7 linked regions of the Homo sapiens genome follow. The protein of the gene in region 6 purifies or fractionates together with the protein of the main gene of each other region. This does not show direct contact. Each region holds a gene or a part of one and is shown on either strand. Other genes may lie near its edges. The genes, in order: ZC3H3, MGP, COL1A2, MUC7, PLCH1, HTN3 and LTF.

What was found.
Region 1: the proteins of HTN3 (region 6) and ZC3H3 purify together in Homo sapiens (affinity purification with mass spectrometry, with the first as the bait; one study listed by BioGRID). This does not show direct contact.
Region 2: the proteins of HTN3 (region 6) and MGP purify together in Homo sapiens (affinity purification with mass spectrometry, with the first as the bait; one study listed by BioGRID). This does not show direct contact.
Region 3: the proteins of HTN3 (region 6) and COL1A2 purify together in Homo sapiens (affinity purification with mass spectrometry, with the first as the bait; one study listed by BioGRID). This does not show direct contact.
Region 4: the proteins of HTN3 (region 6) and MUC7 purify together in Homo sapiens (affinity purification with mass spectrometry, with the first as the bait; one study listed by BioGRID). This does not show direct contact.
Region 5: the proteins of HTN3 (region 6) and PLCH1 purify together in Homo sapiens (affinity purification with mass spectrometry, with the first as the bait; one study listed by BioGRID). This does not show direct contact.
Region 7: the proteins of HTN3 (region 6) and LTF purify together in Homo sapiens (affinity purification with mass spectrometry, with the first as the bait; one study listed by BioGRID). This does not show direct contact.

Annotation. Positions count from the first base shown.
Region 1 is NC_000008.11:143,471,948-143,475,447, reverse strand, and holds part of ZC3H3 (zinc finger CCCH domain-containing protein 3), read left to right. Parts: coding exon 1-50; intron 51-3,500. UniProt on the Homo sapiens protein: Required for the export of polyadenylated mRNAs from the nucleus. Enhances ACVR1B-induced SMAD-dependent transcription. Binds to single-stranded DNA but not to double-stranded DNA in vitro. Involved in RNA cleavage.
Region 2 is NC_000012.12:14,883,055-14,887,179, reverse strand, and holds the start of MGP (matrix Gla protein isoform 2 preproprotein), read left to right. Parts: upstream 1-1,325; 5' UTR 1,326-1,388; coding exon 1,389-1,449; intron 1,450-2,292; coding exon of another isoform or gene 2,293-2,367; intron 2,368-2,934; coding exon 2,935-2,967; intron 2,968-4,125. UniProt on the Homo sapiens protein: Associates with the organic matrix of bone and cartilage. Thought to act as an inhibitor of bone formation.
Region 3 is NC_000007.14:94,422,395-94,425,894, reverse strand, and holds part of COL1A2 (collagen alpha-2(I) chain precursor), read right to left. Parts: intron 2,939-3,500; coding exon 2,777-2,938; intron 1,560-2,776; coding exon 1,452-1,559; intron 779-1,451; coding exon 671-778; intron 286-670; coding exon 232-285; intron 146-231; coding exon 38-145; intron 1-37. UniProt on the Homo sapiens protein: Type I collagen is a member of group I collagen (fibrillar forming collagen).
Region 4 is NC_000004.12:70,471,055-70,474,996, forward strand, and holds the start of MUC7 (mucin-7 precursor), read left to right. Parts: upstream 1-1,142; 5' UTR 1,143-1,237; intron 1,238-2,952; 5' UTR 2,953-2,967; coding exon 2,968-3,021; intron 3,022-3,942. UniProt on the Homo sapiens protein: May function in a protective capacity by promoting the clearance of bacteria in the oral cavity and aiding in mastication, speech, and swallowing. Binds P.aeruginosa pili.
Region 5 is NC_000003.12:155,490,072-155,493,571, forward strand, and holds part of PLCH1 (1-phosphatidylinositol 4,5-bisphosphate phosphodiesterase eta-1), read right to left. Parts: intron 2,783-3,500; coding exon 2,658-2,782; intron 798-2,657; coding exon 713-797; intron 1-712. UniProt on the Homo sapiens protein: The production of the second messenger molecules diacylglycerol (DAG) and inositol 1,4,5-trisphosphate (IP3) is mediated by calcium-activated phosphatidylinositol-specific phospholipase C enzymes.
Region 6 is NC_000004.12:70,027,012-70,031,258, forward strand, and holds the start of HTN3 (histatin-3 precursor), read left to right. Parts: upstream 1-1,447; 5' UTR 1,448-1,505; intron 1,506-3,716; 5' UTR 3,717-3,729; coding exon 3,730-3,780; intron 3,781-4,247.
Region 7 is NC_000003.12:46,447,906-46,451,405, forward strand, and holds part of LTF (lactotransferrin isoform 1 preproprotein), read right to left. Parts: intron 2,769-3,500; coding exon 2,590-2,768; intron 2,124-2,589; coding exon 1,949-2,123; intron 1,113-1,948; coding exon 958-1,112; intron 1-957. UniProt on the Homo sapiens protein: Transferrins are iron binding transport proteins which can bind two Fe(3+) ions in association with the binding of an anion, usually bicarbonate. Lactoferricin binds to the bacterial surface and is crucial for the bactericidal functions.

The sequences.
Region 1 (3,500 bases), on a different chromosome or scaffold from region 6:
GACCTCCGGCCAGCCCAGTGATGCGGGCAGCAGGCCCCTCCTGCGCACAGGTGAGAGGTGAGGGCGGGGGCGCTGGGAGATGACACCGACCGGCTAGCGTGTGGTGGGCATTGCAGGCCAGACCCCCTAACCTCCAACATGCTGTGGCTGCTCTGGGCCTTGGCTCACGCCCCTGTCTTGGGGAGGAGGTCAGGGGCCTCATGCTCCCAGGGAGCCAGTCCAAACAAGCACTTCCCAAATGGGTCACGTCCCATCCTGGGAGTTAATTTCACTCTTCCATACACCCGGCGCCTTCGTAGCCATCCCTAGTGAGACCAACAGGGCAGCCGGAGAATGGAGGGTGCCAGGAGGCCTTCCTCTGCCATCCCCCAGGAAGGGCCCTGGAGTGGCGCCCACCTCGCGTGGCTGAGCGGCCCCTGATTTTCTGTGGGGTGGGGGAGAGTTGCTCACAAGCACCATGTTTCGCTTTTGGAAAAAGGATGATGCCAGGTACGGCAAACACGCCCGGGCGAGCGCACACCTGGGGCCGCGGCGCCCGTAATCGCATTGGCGACGCCTCGACAACTGTGTCTGGAGGCAGCCGGCGCCGCCACCTTGCGCCCTCCCAGCCCAGGGAAACAGGCTCAGGAGAAGGAAATGCTTTGGATTCACTTATCCTACAAATTAACTAGAAAAATATTTTGGTTTCAGTCCAATTTTACCCCCTTTCTTGTCCATCAAAAAAAAAGAGGGAGATTGCAGGTGGTGTTGGGATTGCAGAGGCTGGGCCATGCTGGCTCCCCGACCCGCCTGGGACCTAGAGAGAGAACAGGTTCAGCCCCTGGAGGAGGTAGACTCCGACGGCAGGGTCTGCGGGGGTCAGAGGAGAGGCAGGAAGCGTACCTCCCTGGAAGCCAGCCTCACTGGCCGCCCTGCCTGGCTGTGTTCCTAGCATCCATCTCTGGGCTCCAGGGGCTTCTGGGCTGTTTCCTGGGCAGAGTCGCTGGGAGCAGCACGGGGGCCCTGGCACCTGCCCCACAGGGCTCTGAGCCACACTGTGGCTGGTCAGTGCCCATGACCATGCCTGTAGCCTGGTGGCTGGGGCTGGGGGGTCCTGGTGAACTGGGCAGGAATAAATCCCCACTCGCTGAGGATCTGGTGAGAAGCCCTGGGTCCCTTCCTCGGCACTGTGTCACCCCTGTGTGTGCCTCCCACTCACTGAGGATCTGGTGAGAAGCCCTGGGTCCCTTCCTGGGCACTGTGTCACCCCTGTGTGTGCCTCCGCTTCCCCACCCGTACCTTGAGGGACTGGGCTGTGTGATTTGTGCGTGTGGTCTCATCTCTGCTACACCCCGGGTGCTCAGTGCAGGAGCTGGCTCAGAACATGGGGGCCTTGGTGAGGCTTTGCCCCTGGGGGATGCTGCCGTGGGTTGGGGGATAGGCCTTCCTGTCACCCAGCAGGGCCTTCTCTGGTTACCTCTGATCCTCGGACTCTGGAGCTTGGTGGCCTGTGGGGCTACACACAGCTGTTTGTATCGTGGAGGGGAGGGGCCTCGGGCTTCTCTCCAGCAGTCATTTCCCTGAGTGAAGTATAAGCCCCTGGCCAGTCTCTGGCACAGCAGGTCCCAGGCGCCTGTGGCCGTCCACCAGCCACCAGCCATGTGAGCCAACAGGGACCCTGACCAGTGGAGCTCCCGGGGCCAGCAGCAGGTGCTCTGAGGACATCGTGCTTGACCCCCAGGGACAAAGCCATGAGGTGCCTCTCTGCTCATGCCGGGTGGTCCCACCTTCCCCTGGGCCTCCTTGGCAGAGGCCAAGCCCCACGTTGGCTGGCACTGTCCTGAGTGCACTGACACTGCAGGCACAGTCCTGGCACTGGCTTTCCTCTCTGGTCCTAGAGGCAGTGGGCAGAGCAGCCAGGCTGATCCCTCTGCCCAGGGAAGGGCACCCCGAGCCCTCACCTGCCTGCCTGGGTGGGAGGGTGCCCTGCATCTCCCATGGATGCTGCCTCTGACGTCCCTAGTGCAGGGAGAGGCGTGGGCTGAACACCAGTGAAGATTCCTGGGGCCCACAGGTGTAAATACGCAGACTCGTGTCCAGTCAGGTGGTCAGGGAGGCCTTTCTCATGAGCTGAAAACTGAGAGGGCCCAGAAGGGACAGAAGCAGCAAGAGCATCCTGAGGCCGCCATGCAGAGGCCTGGGCAGGAGTGGGAGGGGGCGTGAGGCATCGCAGGACCCTGTGCACAGCCAGCAGGGGGAGGAGATGGGTTGGGGGCAGGCGGGGTCTACCTGGCACCACTGCACCCACATTCAGAAAGCTCCCGGTAGTCACGATAGTAGTACTGACTGAGGTTGATAATTAAGTGGCCAAGACAGCAGCCATGGAGACCATGATGTCCTGACGTACGCGAGAGCCCCAGGCGGCCAGGATAGGCAGCAGAGGCTGCTCCTGGCAGTCAGTCTGCAGGCCCTGCCCTGCTCTGCGGAAGCTGGAGCCAGGGAGGGGATGCCTACTGCCCTTTCCAGAGCCAGAGCCCATCCCAGGGAGGACCCACCCACTCAGGGAGTGGCCCCCACTGCAGCAGCTGCATCCCACTCCCTGCACAGGGCCAAGGCTGGCCCCGCCTGTTCACCCAGGTCGCGGTGCGTCCTTGGGATTCTCCCTGCACCGTGCACCCGCGGGACCCACGGAGGGGCTTGTGGCATGGGTCCGTCTCCCCGCACCGGGGCCCTTGGGTCGTCTCAGCCCTCGCCGGGATCCTGTGGCCCACGTTTGTTGGGCTGGGTGGGCCTGTGTGGGGAGGTGCACCTGCCATCCCAGCTCTCCCATCCCTCAGTGTCCACAGAGACGCCTGTGGCAGGCAGCAGGTTTGCACTTGGCCCCCTCAGACACGGTGCCCACCACCCGGATGGCCCAGGGTCTGAGCTTTGGGGAGGAGGGAGTGCATAGCCCTGGCCCGCTCAGCAGTGGGGAGGAGAGGGAGGGGCTGCACACTCCTCCCTGGGAGGCTGTGGTGCTGCTGTGTCTCCCCGTCGGTGCCAAGTGCTGAGCTCCGCAGAATCTCGCCTTGCCATTTACACACATGGCAGAGCCCTGGCGGGCGCAGAGCCCCTGACGTCACCACACTGTGAACAGTCTATCCCGGCCACCCTTGCTGACTGGCCTCTGCCTCCGTTGGCCCTTCCCTTGGCCCAGAGCCATCAGAGAGCCAGTCTGGTTCCCCCAGCCCTTCTGGGGCATGTCTCACCCCTGCACCAGCAGCAACCCAGAACTCCTTCATTCAGCCTCAGCAACGCCAGCAAGGAGGGTCTGGCGCACAGAGGCTGGTGCCAGCCAGGGCAGGCAGGGGTCCAGGGGCCTCCTTGCTCCCACCCCTGCCCCTGGGGAGGCCCGCCTGCCATCGAGTAGGGCTATGGCCTCCGGTGTCCCGCTGGCCAGCCTTGGTGGCGACTGTGGCAGTCCTGGGGCTGTGCAGAGCCCAGTGAGGCCGCACTCGCCCTTTGGGTCGACAGGCGAGGCC
Region 2 (4,125 bases), on a different chromosome or scaffold from region 6:
GACAAAAAGAATGAAGCATGAGGCTCCACCTAGTTCATCACTGCTCCTTGAAATACATCAGTATTGAAAGACACATCCACCCCACCCCCAACCCAGCCCTATTGCTGTTCCAGCTCAAGAGTCAGAGGTCCCGAAGCTGTAGCTCTTCTACAATCTGCTGCTCTGTGACTTCAAGTCTGTTGTCTGCAAAGAAAACTATTGGGTTCCCAAGCAAGAGAGGCACATCTGGTAGGACAGATTTTGTGATTGCAAAAGAAGGGGGAAAAAAAGAAAGAAAGAAAAGACCTCTCTATACAAGATAACCAGAGGCATCAAACTGAAATCCTCCTGTGGAAAATAAGCTAGTACTTCTGGGCCTGATGGTGTAGTGAAAACCTGTGCTTGAGGATACATTACAGTGAAAGAGCAAAGTGAATAGTAAGTAGCTATTACTTACCTCCTTAGGGAGGTGTGTTGTTTGTCTGTACATCCCCCACAGCACCTAGCACAGTACCTTGCATCTCACCTGCCACTCACTAAAAAGTCTATCAAGTTAGTTAATTATCGAGACAACGCCCTCAGAAATGAGAGAACAGTACCCTCTTATCCTTGCTGCACTTTCCAGCACTGATACGCTGCCTAAAAGAGGACTAGGGCACAGGTTTGAATTAATGTCACAAAACTGGATGGGCAAGTTACAACGGTGTTGATTAAGGAAACAGAACTCATGGTGCACCGGATATCTCCATCCTGATGAACCCTTGGAAAAATGCCAAAGATGCATATCCCCAGGCAAATGCCTGATTAGTCTGGGATTGATAGATTGGTCTAGGATTCAGCCCTACTGGGAAGATGTCTAAATTATAATCAGTGTAGAAAGCGAAGTTCTCCTAGAAGAAGAGGCAAAGGTTAAAAAGAAGAAAAGAAAAGAAAGTGAAGTCCTTTCTCCCCCAAAACCTCTCATCAATCAATCAGGGTAACAAACAGAACACTAGGGCTCTGTCTGTGGACCAAACCCAAAAGCCCTGCGGTCAGGGCCAGGAGGGTAGATCATGTGTTTGTGGCAACTTCCTCTGTGGGCTTTTGCCCAGGTCTGTCCCCAAGCATACGATGGCCAAAACTTCTGCACCAGAGCAGCATCCTGTGTAACACAGTCAGGTCCAGCAGTTAGGGAAAACTGCCCACTCAGAGTAGATAATATCTGGAAGGAATGACTGTTTGGGAAAAGTTCCAATGCTAGTTCAGTGCCAACCCTTCCCCACCTTCTCCAGCTCTCTCCCACTGGTTCCTCCCCTCTCAACTGCTCTGGTTCTTATAAAAACCTCACAGCCTTCCACTAACATCCCGTAGGAGCCTCTCTCCCTACTGCTGCTACACAAGACCCTGAGACTGACCTGCAGGACGAAACCATGAAGAGCCTGATCCTTCTTGCCATCCTGGCCGCCTTAGCGGTAGTAACTTTGTGTTATGGTGAGAAACTTTTCTCCCATTTCTCTGTGTTTACTTTTCTGCCTCTGACTTTGGCTTACTTCTATTTTTCCTCTCCCTCCTCCTCTTCTTCCCCCTTTCTCTGTTATAATCTTAAAGTACCATTACTTTCACATTTCCCAGTCTCCGCAGAAACTGATCTGTTCTATTAAGTCTTTTTTATATCCTAAATATCCAGAGTCTTATGCAACTTAACAGGCAAACCCGTTCAGTGGTAAGTCTCTGTATATCTAGAAACTCATATTTCAGAAAGAAGATACCAAATTCCCAGCCCCCTGCATCCTCATTTTTAAGGATATTTATTTAGACTTTGGTATCAATGGGTTAAGGGTATTGTTTAAACCACTTGCCTTTGAGAAAATCCATTTTTATGTGAAGTATTAAGTATAGCCCTTTCTAGGGACTGGACAATCTCATGAACTTACTATGTTTGTTCAGTTAATTAATTTTAAAATAAAGTTTTACATCAAAAGAATTTTAGAAAAGAATCATTTTCATAACTCCTGTTGTCAGAAAATAAATTTTGCCTGTTTTCTATATGTCATTAAATATACCTGCATTTGTTCAAAGCTTATAAAAGGAAATCTGAAGCAAAGTTATTTACTTATTTCAGTCTTTTGTTTCAATTACCTAGATATTTTCATTGTTTTAAAATTTAAATTACATTAACAACCATAAAGATTATGCTTCTCACTCTTGTATTCACAAATTTTCTGTATTAGAGGATTTGATTTCTTCACCTCCTTTTTAAGTTTTGAAGAAAATTCACTTGCTGGCAAATATTAATAGAAGCTTCTTATTCCAAAATTTATCTGCTGTGCTCAGGAGAGTGGCAGAAAGAAGAAAACTTCGGCTTTGATATCGTTTCAGTTCTCTCTCTGAACTGGCATCGTGCCCAGGGTGAGCTGTCAGCTGGAGCTAGTGGTTTCTGTGGCTGCCAATTTAACACAGGTTCTTAAGAGGCTTTCGGAACCCTCTTAGAAACCTGCCCTAGTAAGCCCAGCAGAGCAACTGCCCTGTAGTTCTCTTGCCTGGAGAAACCTGGCTGTCTTCTGGATCCTTCTTAATCCTCTTTGACCCTGTTCTCAAACAGGCTCTGAATAAATCAGAGAAGAAGGTTCTCTGGAGACTTCTGTACAGCACTTAAAGTGTCTTATTTTGCTTGTCTGAAGACGTCATAGCCCTTGGGAAATTTTAGCTGAAAATGGCCACTCCCTCCTTCAACATCAGAGAAACTAAAATATAGAGATATCCACAGCAAGGCCAGAGCTAGAGAAAAACCTCATAAATCCTAAATTCCTGAAATTTCTAATAACCACACTGCTAAATATATTCTTCATGTTTTTAGACTCTTTCCTCTTCTTCCATCCCTGTATTTAAACTATCACAGTGTCTAAATTGATAAATAATAACATAATGAATCATGGATAAATATTGATATAATGAATCTTTTTTTTTTAATTTCAGAATCACATGAAAGCATGGAATCTTATGAACTTAGTAAGTGAATATTTAACTTCTTTATTCAAATCCCTTGCATTAAAGAACCTCTTCTTATTTTTAAATAAACAAGATGGAAAGATATATAACAGGGAGGGAAAAGGGGGCCTCTTTTGGAAAACTAAAGTAAATTTTTAAATCTAATGACTATAAAAATTGCCAAAGGAGCAATTTTTTAAGTTTGAAGTAGTGCAATATGGGATTTAAGCTACAGGCGACATATTTAGAAGCCATAAAATCTCATTTGGAAATTTTAAATTGGCACCACGTCAACTGCACAGATGGAAAACGAGGAGTAATGACAAATGGTAAAGCACAGAGCTGGACGCCAAGTCAGCTGGGAGACCACAGGCGCCACGTTAAGCTGAGTGCTGTTTTGGTTTTTTTGTGTTTTTCTTTCTTGTTTTTTTTTTTGAGACAGTGTCTCACTCTGTCGCCCAGGCTAGAGTGCAGTGGTGTGATCTCGGCTCGCCGCAACCTCCACCTCCCAGGTTCAGGCAATTCTCATGCCTCAGCCTCCTGAGTAGCTGGGATTACAGGCCCATGACATCATGCCTGGCTAATTTTTGTATTTTTAGTAGAGATGGGGTTTCACCATGTTGTCCAGGCTGGTCTCGAACTCCTGGCCTCAAGTGATCCACCCACCACAGCCTCCCAAAGTGCCGGGATTACAGGCATGAGCCACCACACCCAGCCAGCTGATTGCTGTTGAATAGCTGGATTTATAAAGACTGAGCATAGGAGGAAATGGCACATCACTCTCATTTTTAATTTATTCATTATTTTTATAGTGTTTAAACTGTTCATGTATCGGCAATCTAGTTATGCTTCATAAATCCTCAGGACAGAGAATTTCTCCTCAAAAGGAATTTAAAATCTACCAAGTAGAAATACAGAAATTAAGAAAGGCAAAGTGATCGTCCAAACTCAAAACCAACAAAGCCTATATGACAAGTCTCTAAGACACATGGATTGATTACTGATTTCATTTGATCAGGAAGTTAATGAAATCTACTTTATACTCTCCTTTAATTTTTGCCAATCTCCGTTTATATGAGTTGCATAAGTTAAGGCACTTTCAAATATATTTGTGTCAAGGAATATTCACGGAAATATTTCCAGCTATGTGTCGCTAAAACTGCATTTATTTATTTTCTG
Region 3 (3,500 bases), on a different chromosome or scaffold from region 6:
GAATGCTGCACTGAGGGACTGGTATTCACAAACTTACAGTTTCACCACGGTTTCCATGTTTGCCAGCAGGACCCACGGGGCCATGAGGACCAGGTGCACCTGCAGCACCAACGGGACCAATATTGCCAGGGTAACCGCGCTCTCCCTACCAAAGGCAAAATGAAGCTTAGCATCAATCTGGGTTGCATTTTAATCACTTTTGAATTAGAGAAAGATGAAAAGTGTACTGACCTTGTGTCCGGGTTGACCATCGCGACCTGGGGGACCATCGTTCCCAGGGTTGCCCTGTGAAGACACCACACAAATTAAGGCTGTTGGTGAGGCTCTGCTGCCTACCAGCCCCTATGTTGTAGCTACTCTGTCTTCATCACTTCCAGTGCTCAGTAACGAACCCTCTTTCAGACTGTTAAAACTAGGGATAAAAACCTGCCAACCTAGATATTTTTTAGAGATGTTTTAAATACTTGGGCCCAGTTTTGCAGTGTGCTATTGAAAAGCCCATTCTTTGGCCTAAGCAATTTTCATATTTTCAGTACTAGGTGTAGATACTATGGAGAAGCTGACCATCTTGTTCAGAAATTTGGAAGAAGAGAACCTCAGCTCAGGACATAAAGTTTCACACAATGAAATCCTGCTCAGTTTTATTTTACAAACCAAGTGTTGGACTCACATCACGACCAGCTTCACCAGGAGCACCGTTGACTCCAGGACTACCCACAGCACCAGGAGGACCACGGGCCCCAGGAGGGCCGGCAATGCCAAGAGGACCAGGTTCACCCTAAACAGGCAGAGAAGATAAAATGACATTCCCCTTATTCGATGGAATGCTAACCTTCCCCTCCAAAACAACCCTACTCAGGAGATTCTAGTTTGAAGGAAGAAGGTAAATTGAATGTGAATGGGTCACACAATGGTAAGAAGTATCATTAGTATCATCTCTGCCCTCCTTCTCCACATGTAGATGGCCAGCTTTATGTAATCACGGGATGTTGCTCTGTAAAAAGTGAGCCTCGTGTCATTCAGTATCCCAAATGAAATGAATTCAAAAAGTTGATATATTTTATGGAGATGAGATGGTTTCTAGTTGTTGTCACGTATAAGGTTTAATGGAACGATTCAGAACTTCCAGAGTTTCATTCTTCCTACAGGATAAATGATGCCAGCATTTCATATTGCAGAGGAGTAAACGCAATTAGAGATTGTATCATTCCTAAGTGCGTGGAAAGAACAAAAATCATTCTGCATAATTTTAAGCTGTGTCTTTATAGTGTGTGTCTAAGTAAGGTGGTATTAAAGCTTCTTAGATAAGTGACATGTGATCTGTATAAAGAAAATGCCATGAATAAAAATCTTAAGTGAAGTTATTCAGTGATCAATCTGTCACATTTGAAGTGGCAGCTTTTAAAATCTTTTCTTATGTTAATGGAGTCAGAATACTGTCAAGCACTCACCACAGCACCAGCAACACCTGGTAGACCACGTTCACCTCTCGAGCCAGGGAGACCCAGAATACCAGGAGCACCAAGAAGACCCTGAGGACCTGGAGTGCCAGGAGGTCCCTAAATAGAGAAAAAATACTGAGTATTATGGGTAAGACCCTAGGTGATAACACAGGTTGGCTTGAAGATTGTGAGAATAAACTGTCTTCAGCTTAGAAAAAGGCTAATGACCTCCTATTACTAGGACATATCCTTGGATATCTTTTCTCTAGTGATGACGGTGAGTTTACATCTTGGCATGAATACTTTTGTATCTGATTCATCCTTGAGACCAATGGCACAACATTTAAAAATATGTGGTTGAGATTTATAAAGACACTTGGGGTGGTGAAATAGAGTTTTTATAGCCTCTAGGCAGGGAAACAAATAAAAAAATTTAAATTGTTATGGATACATAATAGTTGTACATAGTAGGAGGGGTTCCTCAAAAAACTAAAAATAGAACTACCATAAGATCCAGCAATCACACTGCTGGGTATATACACAAAGGAAAGGAAATCAGGCTGGGTGGGGTGGCTCACATGTGTAATCCCAGCACTTTAGGAGGTCAAGGTGGGTGGATCACCTGAGGTCAGGAGATCGAGACCAGCCTGACCAATATGGTGAAACCCCGTCTTTACTAAAAATACAAAAATTAGCTAGGCATGATGGTGTGTGCCTGTAGTCCCAGCTACTCGGGAGGCTGAGACAAGATAATTACTTAAACTGGGGAGGCGGAAGTCGCAGTGAGCTGAGATCGTGCCACTGCACTCCAGCCTGGGCAACAGAGGGGAACTCCATCCCAAAACAAAAAAACAAAAACAAAAACAAAAAACAAAAACAAAAAGGAAATCAGTAAAATCAGTATATCAAAAGGAAGCAAATTTTGACTTTGGCCTCTAAGGTCTAATAGGGGCACCTTTCAGAGTAGCACTAATACTGGACAGTGTATGTTTAAGAAATTGGTAGCCTACTGAGATTGATTAATATGTAGTAGGATGGCCACAGCAATGGGACTCTGTTCTAATCCTGGTACCAGTAAGGTGCCTTCAATAGCTTTAAGGGCTTTGTGATAAAACTGAGTTCCCTCATTTATTGTCTTCCCGATTTTGTGCTTTCTGAGCATCTTGGAAGCCACAGCCCCTCAGTGTGTGCTGGACAGATTTCCTGGCTCAACTGAGCTCTACTTGAGAGCCTGCAATACTCATCAACAAATAGATGCCACTTGAAGATTTGTGTAGGGGCTTTATTTTAATTCAGCATAAGGTATTAAGAAAGAGGAGTTGGAAATCACTTACAGCAGTACCAGCCTCTCCAGAGGGACCCTTCTCACCAGCGAAGCCAGGGGGACCAACTGCACCTACTTCTCCAGTTCGGCCAACTGGACCTTGGTCACCACGAGGACCACGAAGCCCTTCTTTCCCAGCAGGACCAGGGGGACCAGGAGGGCCAGAAATACCCTATGAGCAAATGTACAAGGTCATTTCCTTTCTGTTAATCACCAAGGGCCTGGAAGAGAGCAGCAAAGATTCTAGATCTTAAGATGCAAACAATGTGATGCAATAAAATAATACCCTGGCCATTTGGGGGAAATATTTATAGTTTTTAACCTTCTTTCTTGCAGAAAGAAGCAACTCCTGTCTTCCTTTATGAGGCTGTAACCAACCAAATAATGGAGGAGAGACTATGGCAAATTTCTATGAGGAAAAACAATGTCATGCCACTGGTACCCTGGCATATTGGAATCAGAACTATGTAGAATGATAGGAGTTAATGATAAATGAATGGGACTCTGAGTTTCGAAGGACTTTGCCTTTTCTTTTTTCTTCTTTTTTTTTTTTTTTAAAGAAAGCCAATATACGTGTTTTGTTCATAATTGAGGAATCCCACACACTTCTCAACTAGGTTTAATTAAATGCCTACAGGGAATGAAGATTTTTCTGTTATGAACCTGTAAAAGGATTCCAAGAAATCAACATCTTTGCTATTTTTTTTTCCCAGAAACCTTAACCAGAAGACTTA
Region 4 (3,942 bases), 440 kb from region 6:
TGTAAGCCCTCAGAGACTGTATGTGCAAAAGAACAAACTGACTAGCTAGAAGTGGAATCACACCTTCAAAACTGTATTCCAGATTAACGATTTTACATAGTAGAAATATCTAATTTTGAAGATCTCTATTAAAATGATTCTTAAGTTCTTTTTTAAGTTATTAAGTTTCTTTTTAAAAATAAATATTTATAAAATGACTAGTCTAGCTATCAAAATATCACTACCATGGGGGAAATGGGAGAAAATTTTCTGGGATAAAAGAAACTAGAGACATAACAAGTCACTGCAACACACGGCCCTTAGTTGAGTCCTGGTAGGAACAAAATGACTAAAAATATTTTTGCCAAAATTTGAGTATAAACTCAATTTTAGATTATATGTTTGAATTATTAATATTGTTATAGGTTGATGGTGTTGTGTTATAAAAGAAAGGCTTTTTAGAGAGAAATGCTGAAATAGAGAGTAGCTGTTACAATTTCTGTAGTTTACCTTAAGATACTTCAGCAAAACAACTAAGATATATAGCAAAATGTTAAGAATTATGAAAACCAGGGAATGAGTATATAGTTCTACTACCCTCCTCACTTTTCTATATGTTTGAATATTTTTCAAGACAAAAAGTCAAAAATTGTTTTTAATTACTTGTATTTAAAAATTCAGTGTTGATTTTTTGGCTTTAAATACTGCCCTGCACCAGTACTTGGCACCACAGTATTTTTTTTAAATCCTCTGTCCTTTATTAACTTGTCTTATTGACAAGGAAATATGGTGTTCCATCACATTAACTGTCAGAAGGCAATCACTCTGCTTACTTTGAGAGCCCAACAGGAAAGAGTGGATGATCTGTTCCTGTTGGGAGGACCTGGGCCATGGTTGTTTGTTTCTCCGTAAGCGCCTTCAATTACTGTTCCACTACTCATCAAGCACATAAGTTACTCATTGAGAACCTCTGATCGTCACTGTGCTCATCAGGAAGAAATTGATGCACAAAGAACTACTGTCAATCTCAGCAAACCACAACTATTCTTTTCTTTAAAAGTAAATTCCTTGACACAAATGACCTTATCTTAAATCTAATAGATTTCCTATTTCCAAAAAGCTCGACTGGAGTGTTATAAAACCTGAAAATTCTCTTGTGCTTTCTCTTCTTTTGCTTCTAGTTACCATCCTCAAAGGATTGGCTAAAAGCAAGCAACTGGATTGAACACCCTAAGAAGAAAGATTCACACTGCACCAGGTATGTGGATACTTTAGATAGGTTCTAATATAAACTAAACAGCTTTCAAGTAATATACATATATTAAGTAATAGCAATAGTTGTTCTAATACAGTTATTCTCCTCTCTTCTTATGAACTGCCAAACAGTGTGGTAACACTCAATTCATATGTTATTAGAACACAATATGATTGGTAGGAATGTTTTTTGGTCTTGAAATTTAAAAACAAATCTGACAATATATTAGGAACCTGAAGAATAATAAGTAACCATTTCGTTTTTCAATTGGGTCAGATTGTTTTCTTCTTAGTGTGCTAGTACTATAATAATACCACTGAGACTTTATTATGGATAAGACATTATTCTCAGTACGATTTGTAATATATATATTATTCCAGTCAATCCTCAGGACATTCTTATGATGTAAGATTGCAACTCACTCAAAGTCATGCAGTGAGTGGCAGAGTCACACAGTAAGTGGGCAGAGCTTAAATCAAGTCTCTGACTGACTCTAACACCCATTTTATAAACCATGGGATTGTATTGTAAAGTGTGTCTAATCTCACAGCCCACCACATTGACATGCACACTAATTACCTGCCCTAATATGTAATCTGTCTATATGATTTAACCTTTATTTTGTTTTCTAAAGCTGATAAGCTGACATGTACACATTACATATATAACCAAAATGAGAAAAACAAAAGACCACATTCTTCTCTCACTCTTCCCTTCTACAACCTATAGCCAAAATACAATTCTCTTTTGCAAGTAGTTATTCAAAAAAAATATGTATTAAGTCTGCACTATGTACTAGGCATGATGACATAACAATGAATAAAGAATAATTCCTGTCATTTTGGGACTTAGAAAAAGGGTATCGGCCAGACACGGTGGCTCACACCCGTAATCCCAGAATTTTGGGAGGCCGATGAGGGTGGATTGCTTGAGCCCAGGAGTTCAGGACCAGCCTGGGCAACACAGTGAAACCGTGTCTCTACAAAAAATAAAAATAATAATAGCAATAGCCAGGAGCGGTGGTGCATGACTGTAGTCCAAGCTACTAGGGTGGCCAAAGTGAGAGGATCGCTTGAGTCTGGGGGGTGCAGGCTGCAGTGAGCCATGCGTGTGCCACTTCACTCCAGCCTGGACAACAGAGCGAGACTCTGTCTCAAAAAAAAAAAAAAGGTACAAGAAAAAGGATTATCAAATGGCAAAATCTTCAGTAGAATGAAATTGGAGGAAGAGTCCATTTGACCTGGTTCTTTGTTCCAAGTGACAGCCTTATAGCACAGCGACAAAGAGCATTTTCCTCTAACATCAGGAGTCTTTGCAAAACTGTGTAGTATCAGGTCATTTATATGATGGTTCCCCACAGAGGGGAGCTTCCTGAATTAGAAAAGAAATAAGAAGAAAATTATTTCCTTTTCTTATTGCTAAACTTCCTAAGATCCTGCCTTTCCTAGCCAATCTTTAATATCAATAGAAAATGCTCATTTTGCAAACTAGTTAGAATAATTCTTGAGCCTCCTCCATTGCTTCCTCTCTAAAAGAATGCATTTTAGGCCTGAAGCAATTTTGCATCACCCCTATGGAATGAAAATGTATACATAATTTTCAGAAACCATTGGTCTCTTTTTGCCTGTACTTTCTAATAAAAATAAGTTATTTACCAAAACGCATTCCTCTCCCATAATATCATAACTAATAGTACGCCACATTTCTGCTTTTCCCAGGAGACATCAGAAAGAATGAAAACTCTGCCGCTGTTTGTGTGCATCTGTGCACTGAGTGCTTGCTTCTCGGTAAGTATTCACCCAAATAAGTTTTTTCCTTAACTATCAATAACAAACATTTAGTGTACCTACCTGAGACTTTTAAAGCATAATAGGCAACCCCTATTTCCAAGAAGCTTGACATCTTTTATTTCCAGGAAACCTATAAATATGGACAATTGGCCGGTGCACTGGCTCACACCTCTAATCCCAGCACTATGGGAAGCCTAGGAGGGAGGATCACTTGAGCTCAGAGAAGTTCAAGACTAGCCTGAGTAACATAATGAGACAGTATCTCCACAACAACAACAACAACAAAATTTAATTAGCCAGGTGTGGTGGTGCGTGCCTGTAATCCCAACTACTCGGAGGCTGAGGTTGGGATCTTAAGCCTGGGAGGTCAAGGCTGCAGCAAGCCGTAATCATACCACTATGCCACAGCCTGGGTGACAAAATGAGACCCTGTCTTAAAAATATATACAGATAGGTAGATAGACTAGATAGATAGGTAGATAGACTAGGTAGGTAGGTAGGTAGGTAGGTAGATAGAGCATAAGGAAATAATTTGTTTCATTTATCCAATATCTATAGAGCACAAACTTTATAGTGAGTGTGATGAGAACTGACACAGATGAAAACCCAGGTTTGTAAGGCCTTTAGGTCTTGGTGTGGAATATGGTTTCAAATCTGTCAGGAAGTCTCAGCATGATCAAAGCACTCCCAGGGGATTTACATGACAGGATTCTCAGGAGAAGATAGGTAGCAGGTAACAAAAGCTGAGATAAGGAGACTAGTCAGGAAGCTATGGCAGTGGTCCAGATAAAAGATGATGGTGACTTGCACTAAATTTCAGCAATTAAAAGATAAGAGTGGGTTTAGGATATATTTTAGTGATTGAGTCTACTATATCTTCTGCTGGATTGTATATGTGGTAAAAGAAAGAAATGAACA
Region 5 (3,500 bases), on a different chromosome or scaffold from region 6:
TGAAACTGTAGTGTTCCTTCAGGGACTCCTTGTGAACCCTTAATTTCTCAAATTAATGATTGTGCTTCAAATGTATTTTACAGTATTAATCACAAGAGATTGAGGAAAAATAGGTATACAATAATGTTTGTGAAATGTATGAACAAACAAATTTTAAAAGATTACAAATAAAAAGACATGAGGCTTGGGTAAAGAAAAATTTCTTTATATTATGGCGAAAATATAAGAAGAATGCTGCCCCTCCAATCGTATGTAAATATTCAAGAAGTAAACTCGCCAGACTATATTGTGCTTGCCTTTAGAGTTTTACATGCTCCAGAAAAAGTGAGAAATTATCAAGACACATAGGCTTCACAAATGAGAGCTTTGAGAAAACGCATGTCATAAAAATACAATATAAACATATAATGGAGGCATTTCCTCAGTGAATTTTTAACCCAATTCTTTAAAATATCATTTACTCTTTTTACTAGAAAAAAAATTTCCTTTAAAAGCAAAAGTCTAGAGAGCCTAGATTACAATACCATAAAAATAAGCCACGCATCAATTCCACAGTTACTTAGTTTTATGTGTTGAAAAGCTTTTAACATAAACTCAGATGGGAGTTACGGATTTTAGAGATTTCTTGCTCTTCTACATAGACACTTTTTTTAGTGTAAATTCTATTTCTAGACCATCTTCATTAAAAAGTGAACACAGATTACCATCTTACCATTGTCATCTACCACACGGGTTTGATCTTTACAACAATCTACTGGCAATCCAATAATTTCAACTTCAACAAAAGGGTCAATGATCTATTAAGTAAAGAGAAAGTACTATTACAAATAACATATTTCTATACATATGTTAATTAATCTGAGAATATTGGCCAAAATGTCTACATTTCGACAGCAACTGATTTTACAAGGTGCTTAGTAAGAAAAAGAAATGGTACTAGGTGTGGTGGATTCAGATATATGAGACAAGTATAAAAAATATTAAATTACTGTTTGCTAGTATTTATTAACGCCAACAACTTTACCCACTGAACCTACAACTTTAGTTCAGGGCAAATACCAAACAGAACTGAGATGTTTTGCCCATGCACAAATGCTGAGAGCAGCTGTATCTATAATAGTCAAACACTGGAAACAACCTAAATTTCTATCATGAGTAGGATGGATAATTGTGGAATATACGTTTTTTGTTTTTTGTTATTTTGTTTTTTGAGATAGGGTCTTACTCTGTAGCTCAGGTCGGAGTGCAGTGGCATGATCTTAGCTCATGGCAGCCTCCACCTCCCAGGTTTAAGCCATCCTCCCACCTCAGCCTCCCGAGTAGCTGGGACTATAGGATTGTGCACCACACCTGGCTAATTTTGGTAATTTTTGTAGAGATGGGGTTTTGCCATGTTGTCCAGGCTGGTCTCAAACTCCTGAGCTCAGGCAATCTGCCCACCTCAGCCTCTCAAAGTGCTGGGATTATAAATGTGAGCCACCGTGCCTGGTCAGAAGTATGTGTTCAATGAATACTCTCAACAATGAGAAAAGAATAAAGTTCTCCTATATAACATAACGTTGAGCAAGCCAGACATAAAAGAGTACCTACTCTAAGAGTCCATTTATATAAAGTTTAGGAATAGACAAAATTTGTCTGCTGTGATAGGGGTTGGTGTTTGCTATGAGAGGCAGTGGGGAGGGTAGATATTGACTGGGAAGGTGGACAGGAGCCTTCTAGGGATTCTGGATATACTCTGCCTTGATCTGGGTGGCATAATAATTAATCAAGCTATGCATGTTTGATTCTTATACTTTAATTCCCATCCTCTCCTCTAGGGGGAAATATCTTGTATTGTTGGTCATCTGTAGACTCTCCTTTCTGGTACCAGTTCTGGGCGACGAACAATGAAGGAATAAAACCCAAAGAATCTAGAAAGAGCTGACCTAAGAAAGTCTAAAGCAGAGAAAGTAGACTTCTTAAAGCATTTATGGCGGTACCAAATTGTAGAGCTCTGTGATTTCCTTCCTTAAGATCCAAAAATGATGGTTTAATAGGCGGGAGTGACAAAGAACCTGAAGTAATGGATCAGCTCTGAGAGGAAGGGCATGAGCATAGGAGAAGCTGCTATATAGCGAGAAAACAGAAGCCAAGAAGGTATAATGGAAACAATGGGCTAAGAGCTCTGGAAAGAAAAAAGACTGTGGCCGCAGATGAAGACATTTTAAAATCACGCGACACAGGTACAGCAGATGATAATAAGAATCAGCACATGGCCAAGGAGCAGGTGGCTGATGTGCAGCAGGGAGGAGCATTGCAGGAGGACAGGAATGTGAGGTTATATTATTAACGGAACATTGCCTTTCTAGGTTAAGATATACTCTTAGGTGTTGTTCTGTTAATAATATAATTGTCTTTGCACTCCAATTTTAGCAATGCTAGTGTCAACCTTAAATTGTGAATTCAATTGTGTGCTCTTATGCCTTCAAAATAGATGATGGACAGCAGTACAGCAAGAACTGTGTGACTTACCAATAAATCAGTTAATGTCTGATAAGCTGAGGTCAGTGCTCAGTTATGAACACACATACATCTCTGAAGACATTTCGGATAAAATGTAAATGCACTAAGATAATCACATAATTAACCACTTAGACACGTAGTCATAGGCAACTTACCTCGCCTCGATCTCCAAACATGGAGTCTGGAGGTTTGGGGAGTTGCTGTCCACTGATAACTTTCAGGATGAGCTGCTTTTTGGGGTTGGCAGGAAGAGGGTCACCAGAGAAAGGGTTGAAAGTACCTAGGCCAAGTAAAGTATAAGTTGGTAACATAAGAAGAAACACACACGCATGCACAGCTTAAGCTTGTAAACAAAGAAACAAACAAACAAAAACAAATGCTGAATTACATGATCACATAACTATCAGTGTGGCATAGCTGTGGTTTTCATTAGAAACCATGTTGCCAAAGGCCAGTGGAGTGGGCCAACTTAAAGCAAGTGTTTGCAATGCAATGATCAACTGTGGAATGAAGGAAGAGAAGCATTTTATTTGAACACCAACAGTGTAAAAAGAAGAACAATTATGTCAGATTCAAATAATTTTCTAACCTAAACTATCTCAGGCATGAGTGAATATAACAAACAGAAAGAAGACTTGAAATTAAGTAAACAGCAGAGCAAGAAAATGTGCAAAGTGTAAAATCTTGAAGATAATCCTGTCAACAACTTTTTTATCTGAATTGTTATATATGTAATTTGGAAATTTTAAAAATAATTTTAATGAGCAGAACCAAAAGAAAGTGTTGTTTGATCTAACACATTATCCTTTTTTTGCTTTGTTTTGTTTCTTTTGAGATGGAGTCTCACTCTGTCACCCAGGCTGGAGTGCAGTGGTGTGATCTTGGCTCACTGCAACCTCTGCCTCCTGGGTTCCAGCGATTCTCCTACCTCAACTTCCCAAGTAGCTGGGACTACAGGCACGCACCACTATGCCCAGCTAATTCTGATTTTCAGTAGA
Region 6 (4,247 bases):
AGCATAAAACATTTACCTAATAAATATTTCCTTTAAAAACCACACAAATTCATTTTATTTTATTTTATTATTTTACTTTAAGTTCTAGGATACATGTGCAGAATATGCAGGTTTTTTGCACAGGTAAACGTGTGCTATGGTGGTTTGCTGTATCTATTAAGCCGTCGTCTGGATTTTAAGCCCCGCATGCATTAGCTATTTGCCCTGAGGCTCTCCCTCCCTCCCCAGCCACCAGCCCTGATGTGTGTTGTTCCCTTTCCTGTATCAGACTCAAATTAAAAACATAATCTCTATTAGTGGGATCAATCTAAAGACAATGCGTTTACAAATCTGTTATATAGTTTTTCAAACTCTAAAGTACACAAATAATGTTCTGGACATGTTCTTAAAATTCAGGTTCCAGGTGTACACCCCAAGATTCTGACTCAGTAATTTTGGAAAAGTAGACTAAGAATTTGCATTTCAACAGGTATGAGCTGATGCTGATTGTGATGGTAGTATGTGGGACATCCTGAGGAACAATGGACTGAGCTGTACAACTTATCTGAACTTAGAAGTTAGTTTTTAATACTCGGTTCTTAGCACATTGAATTAAACAACCGGTAGTGAGTAGGTGATCTTTTATACATGTTTGTCTATTAATTTAATTAAAATTCTATTTTTCTCTTTCTGTCTAGTGTACTTATTTCAATAAATGACCTCTGTGAAGATATATGGGCCCCTGAAAACTCCAGGGAAGTAAATTCAAATTTCTAAACATAAGAAATCAGTTTTATGTGAGAGATATGTGACCAAGCACCTAGAAACGTTTGACATTAAATATGAGAATACTTTTATCATATGGCATCCAAAAGATGACTGAATTTTGGCCAATGTTTACATTCATTTTATTACTTAAAATATTCTAAGTCAATGTAAGCAGGTAAAAATACAAGATAAATGATGATTTGTAGGAAAACTTTTGAAGTGTAGAATGACTCCAATTTTATTATGCCAATTATCACTATTTACTAGAGAACGTGTAAAATTTTTCATAACATGGTAAGTATTATTTTTGACATAGCGTTGTTCCATCTTGGACATATATTTGTTGAAAAGTAGTAGATGGTATTCTACAGAAACATCTTTATCACTGCAATCATTTCTATGCCTGGTTTCCTCCAGCGTGCTTTTCCGTTGTCTGACTCACTCAGGGCTAGACTAACACTGGGATTAGCATGTGATGGGTCCATTCGCTTTCCGGTTGCCTTGTCTTCACAATGATCTATTGCAGAATCACCTGGTTAAGTTTATTTTTAGAATTTGTAGAGACAGATTTTGGGCATTACTTTCCGTCTCGATCATATGATCTCATAATTGATGTTATTTTGAAAAACAAAAGGGAGATTTCAAAAAACAAAAGGGAGATTTCAACGTGTTTAAATACATCAGCCATCTAGGAAAGGACATCTCTTGAGACTTCACTTCAGCTTCACTGACTTCTGGATTCTCCTCTTGAGTAAAAGGTAACATGTTCAAGTACAATCTAATATTATATATTAGCATAAGCTTTTGTTTGCTAAAATCAATAGTAACCCACTTATGAAAATGTATATTATCTATGATAATTTCTTATAAAGAAATAATTACCATTTATTGGCATCTGAAGATGACTTCTAGATCTCAATTCCTATGAATTAACACCAGCAATCATCATGCAAAGTAACTAATGTGGAATATGGCAATGTATTACATCCTCGCTGATGGTGGGACCTCAATGAACTCTTTTTATTTCCTTGCCTAGATACCTGATATCTACTTTCTTATTACTTTTATATTAAACTTAATGTAGAAGTTCACATTTTACAAGATACTGATAGATTCTGTCTTGCAAATTCATTATTATAAAAATTTATTTTTTAATTTACTTTCCTCTTAGTCGTAAACTATTTTATTACTTTTTCATTGGCCTTTCCATCATTAAAAACAGTTCTGTTATAAATCAAAATATATACTGTATAACAATTAGTCTTCTCAATCTTACTAATTTATTTAACTCATTTTCATTCATTTGTGTTATGGCAGAAAAGACAGTTTATTATTCCAAATTTTTATTATTGATTTACTCGGGAAATATGTTTTTCAAAACTATTAATTATACATTGATTATCTATGTTCATTTATCATTTTATCTGTTAGTAAAAGAAGGGCACTTTCTTACAGCCTTTTTTGATTTTCTATTTGCAACACAATTGACAGTCACAAACAACGGTAAAATTGTCTTTTTATATCATAAAAAGAGTCATAATTTGATTTATCTATTAGGTAATAGAAAAACTTCAAGAAATATATAATTTTTATAGTTAGTCCTATACAAGAAGTTTCCATTTAAATGAGTGAAGCAAAATGAATGAAGAAATAATAAGGCAAATGGGTTCTGCTTTCTGTGATAGAGATGTAGGGCTGTTTAAGAGTAGGACATTTTTATTATAATTAGATGAAAAACGTTACTGTAATGTTCTATCACAAGTGACAGGTAAGAGAGATTAGAAAAATTTTTTAAAATATTATCTATTAATGAATTACTTTATAGCTAGCAACTAACAAATAAAAATGCCATGTAATTCTAAGTTTTGTGGTAATTGTATTTTCCAGTGGAAATGCTTTTATTTACATGTTTGTAATTTAGAAATAAGTAATCCGCTTTACTTTTTTATATCAGCCGAAGAACTGGATTCACTTGCATATGCATAATTATAAAAACATATCAGAGTCCCAGATGAGGCTTTGAATAATATTATTTGAAATATTGAATAATCTTCACCAGTTCAACTTCTCAAAGTAGATACAATCATTTTCCCTGTGACTTCTCTTCATTTTATTTTTCTCTAACCAATACCATTAATGTTCTAATCTCAAGGTTGCACCATCTGTGCTATTCTTTAATAGAAATCTGGCTCATATTCACTGACTTTATTATAAAGAAAGTCCCCATTACTTGCCATTCTACTTTCTAAATATGTCTTTACACTGTACTTTAATTAGCATTCTTAATGTCATTATCTAAATCCCTTGTAATGTCACAACAACCTAAGTGGTCATCTTTTCTCCAGTTTTGTCCTCCCTACATGCTAAACTGTTTGAACTTTCAACATGCTTTCCTCTCTGTTGTATTTCATTGCAGTCTCCCAACACCTCCCTTTACTCATTCCATATAATCCAACTCAAGCTTGCCTTTCTTTGTTATCTTCTTACTCCCATTATCTTGGTCTATTTAAGATGTCCATTTGTGTGTTTCCTTAGCATATTAATAATTCCAAATTAGAGCACTCACCTTTATTTATCAATTAATGAAGCTATGCCCTGGGCTCACACCGAAGATCCAAGCATTTTGAAAGGCCAAGGCAGGAAGATTCCTAGAGCCCAGGAGTTTCAGAACAGTCTGGGCAATATAGTGAGACTAAAAATATTCTCTACCAAAAGAAAAACAAATTAGCTTGTCATGGTGTCACACACTTGTAGTTCCACCTACAAGTGGAACTAGGGAGGCTAAAGTGGGAGGATGGCTTGAGCCCAGGTGGTCCAGGATGCAGTGATCTGTGCTCATGCCCCTGCACTCCAGCCTGGAAAACAGAGCATGTCTCCCAATGCTTTGAAGCATAGTGTCATCAGTAGAAGTTTGATGAATGAATGCATGAAAGAATGTGATTACTGATTTTTCATGTTTGATTTTATAGGACTCAGCCAACTATGAAGTTTTTTGTTTTTGCTTTAATCTTGGCTCTCATGCTTTCCATGACTGTAAGTATATCTGGAAGTTTTAAAGGATACATTCTCAGTACTTATCCCAAGGATCTTTCTTATTCCTTACGTTCTGCCATATATTCATGTTCACCTCAATACAGCTTTAATATTTCTATGTAAAGATTTTCCTTGAATTAACCTATATAAGTTCTTAAAGGACTTAGAATAAATATTCATTACATACCTGCGAACACTCAAGTACAATTACTTGAATATAAAAATAAAAGAAAATTAAGCAAGCTTCATAAATATGTGGGACTGAGAACTGTGAAAATATCTTTAAATATTAAAAGCTCTAGACCACCTGAAGTTAGAAATCTGAGGAAAGAACAAGGTACACTTCAATGGAACCTAAGTATTAGAGGGTGTCAAAATATGAATTTTCAAGTAATTTCTTGCACAACCAAACTGTTCAAGTTAGCATACAATTTATTTTACTCTTTCTAAAATAAAGCTGCCTATTT
Region 7 (3,500 bases), on a different chromosome or scaffold from region 6:
AATATTTTTACAACTATATTAAAAATAGAGAAGTGGACAAAGATTTCTACTCAAGAATGCTCACCACAGGGTTATTGATAATAGCAAAGTAAGGGACAAAGAGGAATGGGGGCATGACTAAACTGAGCCATATTCACATAAAAGATATCCTGGAAGCATGTTTAAAAAATGTTTTCGTCCGAGTGCTGTGGCTCACACCCGTAATCCCAGCACTTTGGGAGGCCGAAGCAGGAAGATTGCTTGAGCCCAGGAGTTCGAGACGAGCCTGGGCAACAAAGCGAGACCCTGTCGCTACAATAATAATAATAATAATTATGCAGGTGTGGTGGCGTATGCCTGTAGCCCCAGCTACTTGGGAAGCTGAGATGGGAGGATCACTTGAGCCCAAGAGTTCCAGGCTGCAGTGAGATGTGGTCGCACCACTGCACTCCAGCCTGGGTGACAGATCAAGAATCTGTCTCTTAAAAAAAAAAAAATTAATGCTTTCCAAGAGTAAATATTCATGTGGAAGAATGCCCATTATACGCTGTTTAGTGAAAAGGGCTTAAAAACGACATACTGCAACACTTCATTATTGTTGCATGCATATCTGCAGATGTGCAGAGAAATACTGGAATGGAGAATTAGCCAGACTTTAACCATGTCTGTCCCTCTGTGTGAGATCACAGGTGGTTTGGGGGGTTTGTTGTTGTTTTGTTTTAACATAATACCTTTCCATATTTTCCAAATTCCTTATAATAATCCTGAGTTGTTCTTATAACCAGAGGAGTGGGAAACCCACAGTAAACTGCTTTTTGAAACTAAAATGCTTTCTGGCCCTGAGCACACCTCTCCAGGCATCCCTGCCTCACCCAGGCCCCCGTGGCCTCTTTGACTGTTGACTTCACTTTAAGCAGATGCCCAGGCCCTAGGTCTTCCACCGGGCCCACCGCCCGCCCCTGTGATGGAGCTCCCTACCAGCACCAGGGCGATGCAGTCCTCTGTGGTGGAGGCCGAGGAGCAGGTCACGCTGCCTTCGCTCAAGCCACTCCACTGGTTACACTTGCGCAGCTCCTGCTCGCCCACCGCACACCACACGACCCGCGCACGCCGGGCAGCCACTTCCTCCTCACCTGCCAGAGGGAAGACCGCAGGTGGCTGGGCAACCTGAGCTTTGCCAGGTTGTCCAACCTCCCCAGAGCCAGGGTCCTGCCCAGACTCTCCCTGGAACAGGAGCTACAGTACATGTGTGGACATGTGGACCCATACCCTCTCCTCCTCCACTTCTCAGCTCCAAGCCCCTTCTTCAGGTCCACAGAGCTCCCTGTGTTTCCCACTTCTGTTCCTTTGGAGAAGTTCCCTGGCTTCTAATCTATCCATTAATCTTTAGAGTCAGGAGGCGCCTATTGTCTCTGTCTCTGAGGATAAACGCTCCATGACCCAGAGACCAGTGACAGTCCCAAGAGATGGCCTAGGGGACCTTGAGCCCAACCCTGACTTCCCCTAACGCCTGCAATCACCACCAATAACTACGGTGCAGCCTCTGGGTTCCCCCAGACTCCCACCCCCAGCCCCCCAGTAGAGAAGGAGCCATAGCTGAGTTCCCCCACCATGGTGTCCCCAACTAAGTTCAAGGTCTGGGCCTGGGAAGTGTGGGTAAATCCAGGCCCCCGGATTCATCCAGGAGGGGTCCTGGCTATCTTTGTTCATGTTCATGTTTCTCACTTAATAGGAGGCAAACTGATTTTTCTGCCAGGCCTGGGGAGCCTGACGTGCACTGATCAGGTGGCCAGACTATTCTTTTAGAGACACCTGACCTAATCCACAGAAGACACTCACACCTGCATCAAACCTCCACGATGACCCCACAGTGTCTGGGAAAAGGAGTGACCGCCACAAAGTAGGGCCACCTGCTGGGAAGTAGAAGACCACACCAGGCGGACCTCAGGACCCTCCTGGGCTCACTCACTTTTCCTCAAGTTCTGGATGGCAGTGAAGTAGCCGGAGCCAAGGTACAGCCCAGAATCTATCCTCGGGGGCACCCTCGAAAACCCAATGGCAGAGTCCTTGAACAGCAGATCTTTCTGCCCACTAGGGGAGCCAAAGAGCTGGAATTTCGGTGACTTGTCCTTTCCAAACTTTTCCTAATTAAGAAAAAATAGAATTATGGTGTCAATGGTAAATAGGGAGGAAACAAAAAAATGATGTTAAAAAAGAGTATCTGGAGCTTTGGGATCATTCTAACTGAGAGCAGGAGCCTCGGTTGAGACCCTCCTGCAGAGGGACTTGTGCCATCTCGGAGACCCAAGCTCAGCTATGGCTCATTCTTTGAAGAGTTGCTGAGGTCCAAGCACCTTAGGGCCCTGAGAAGATTGCATCGACCACCCCCTGCTTCTGCTCCCATCATAAGACGCTGTCAGCCCGTGTGACAGAAGAGTTTCATTGCTTCTGCTGTCCACAGTACAGCCTGGGCAAGCAGCCCAATGCATTAGTGTGCTATCCTGCAGCAAAGCTACAGGACTTCTGGAGTGGCAGAAGTCAGGGAAGTAAGAAACCTTGCTCCCTGCCCCCCATATCCAAGCAAGTGGGGAGGACCGTGGGTGAAGATACCTGTGCCTGGCGGAGAAGATTCCAGATGGCATCCTCCTTGCCATTCACACTTCGTGCCACAACGGCATGAGAAGGGACCCGGGCCAGATGGCAGTCTTTGAACTTGTCCACTGGCTTCCGAGTGTTGTCTGGGCAGAGTAACTCATACTCGTCCCTTTCAGCCTCGTCTGACAGGTCCTCTGCAGGGAAGGTGAGGTGGGAGGGAGTCTAGATAAGCCGACTCCAGCAGTAACCTCGAGCTATAGTTCCCCTTCTCCCTATAGAATTTTGAGCTTGGGGAGATAGCTGACAAAACTGAGGGTCAGAAAGGCAGGGGTTTGCTCCAGAACACTCAGAAAGGTAAAGGTAGTGCCCCAAAAGCCTCAGGGGGCAGCCGAGGTGTGATCCTCATCCTAAATCACTTAGGCCACCCTGGGGTTCCCGTGCAGCTGCTGCCTGGCAGGCCAGAGAGGCCAAACCAGACCCGTCTGTTTCTGCGGCATCTCTGCCTGGAAAAGTCACTTTGCAGAGACAAGCTCAGGGGGCCACCAAGGGTTGCTCCCTTACTCACATCTCTGGGAAGAATAAAAATGACAAAAATGTTAACAAGGCAGGGAATAAGGCAGGAAGGTGAGACACTTTCCAACACTGAGTATATCAAAAGAAGGGGAAGAATGGTTTTATGAATGAGTTCAGGCAAATGTGGAATATCATATATAAGTTGCTTCAGAATGTGTAAAGTGAAAAAAATCTTGCCCGAGTCATTTTATGAGATTAGTACAACCTTGATGTCAAAATCAGAAAAAGTATAGGAGGGAAGAATTAAAAGTTTATTTTACTTACGAACATAAATGCAAAATTTGTAAATAACGTACTAACTAACTCAATCTCACAGAGTATTTAAAAAGCTAATAGATTGGAATGAAGGTTTA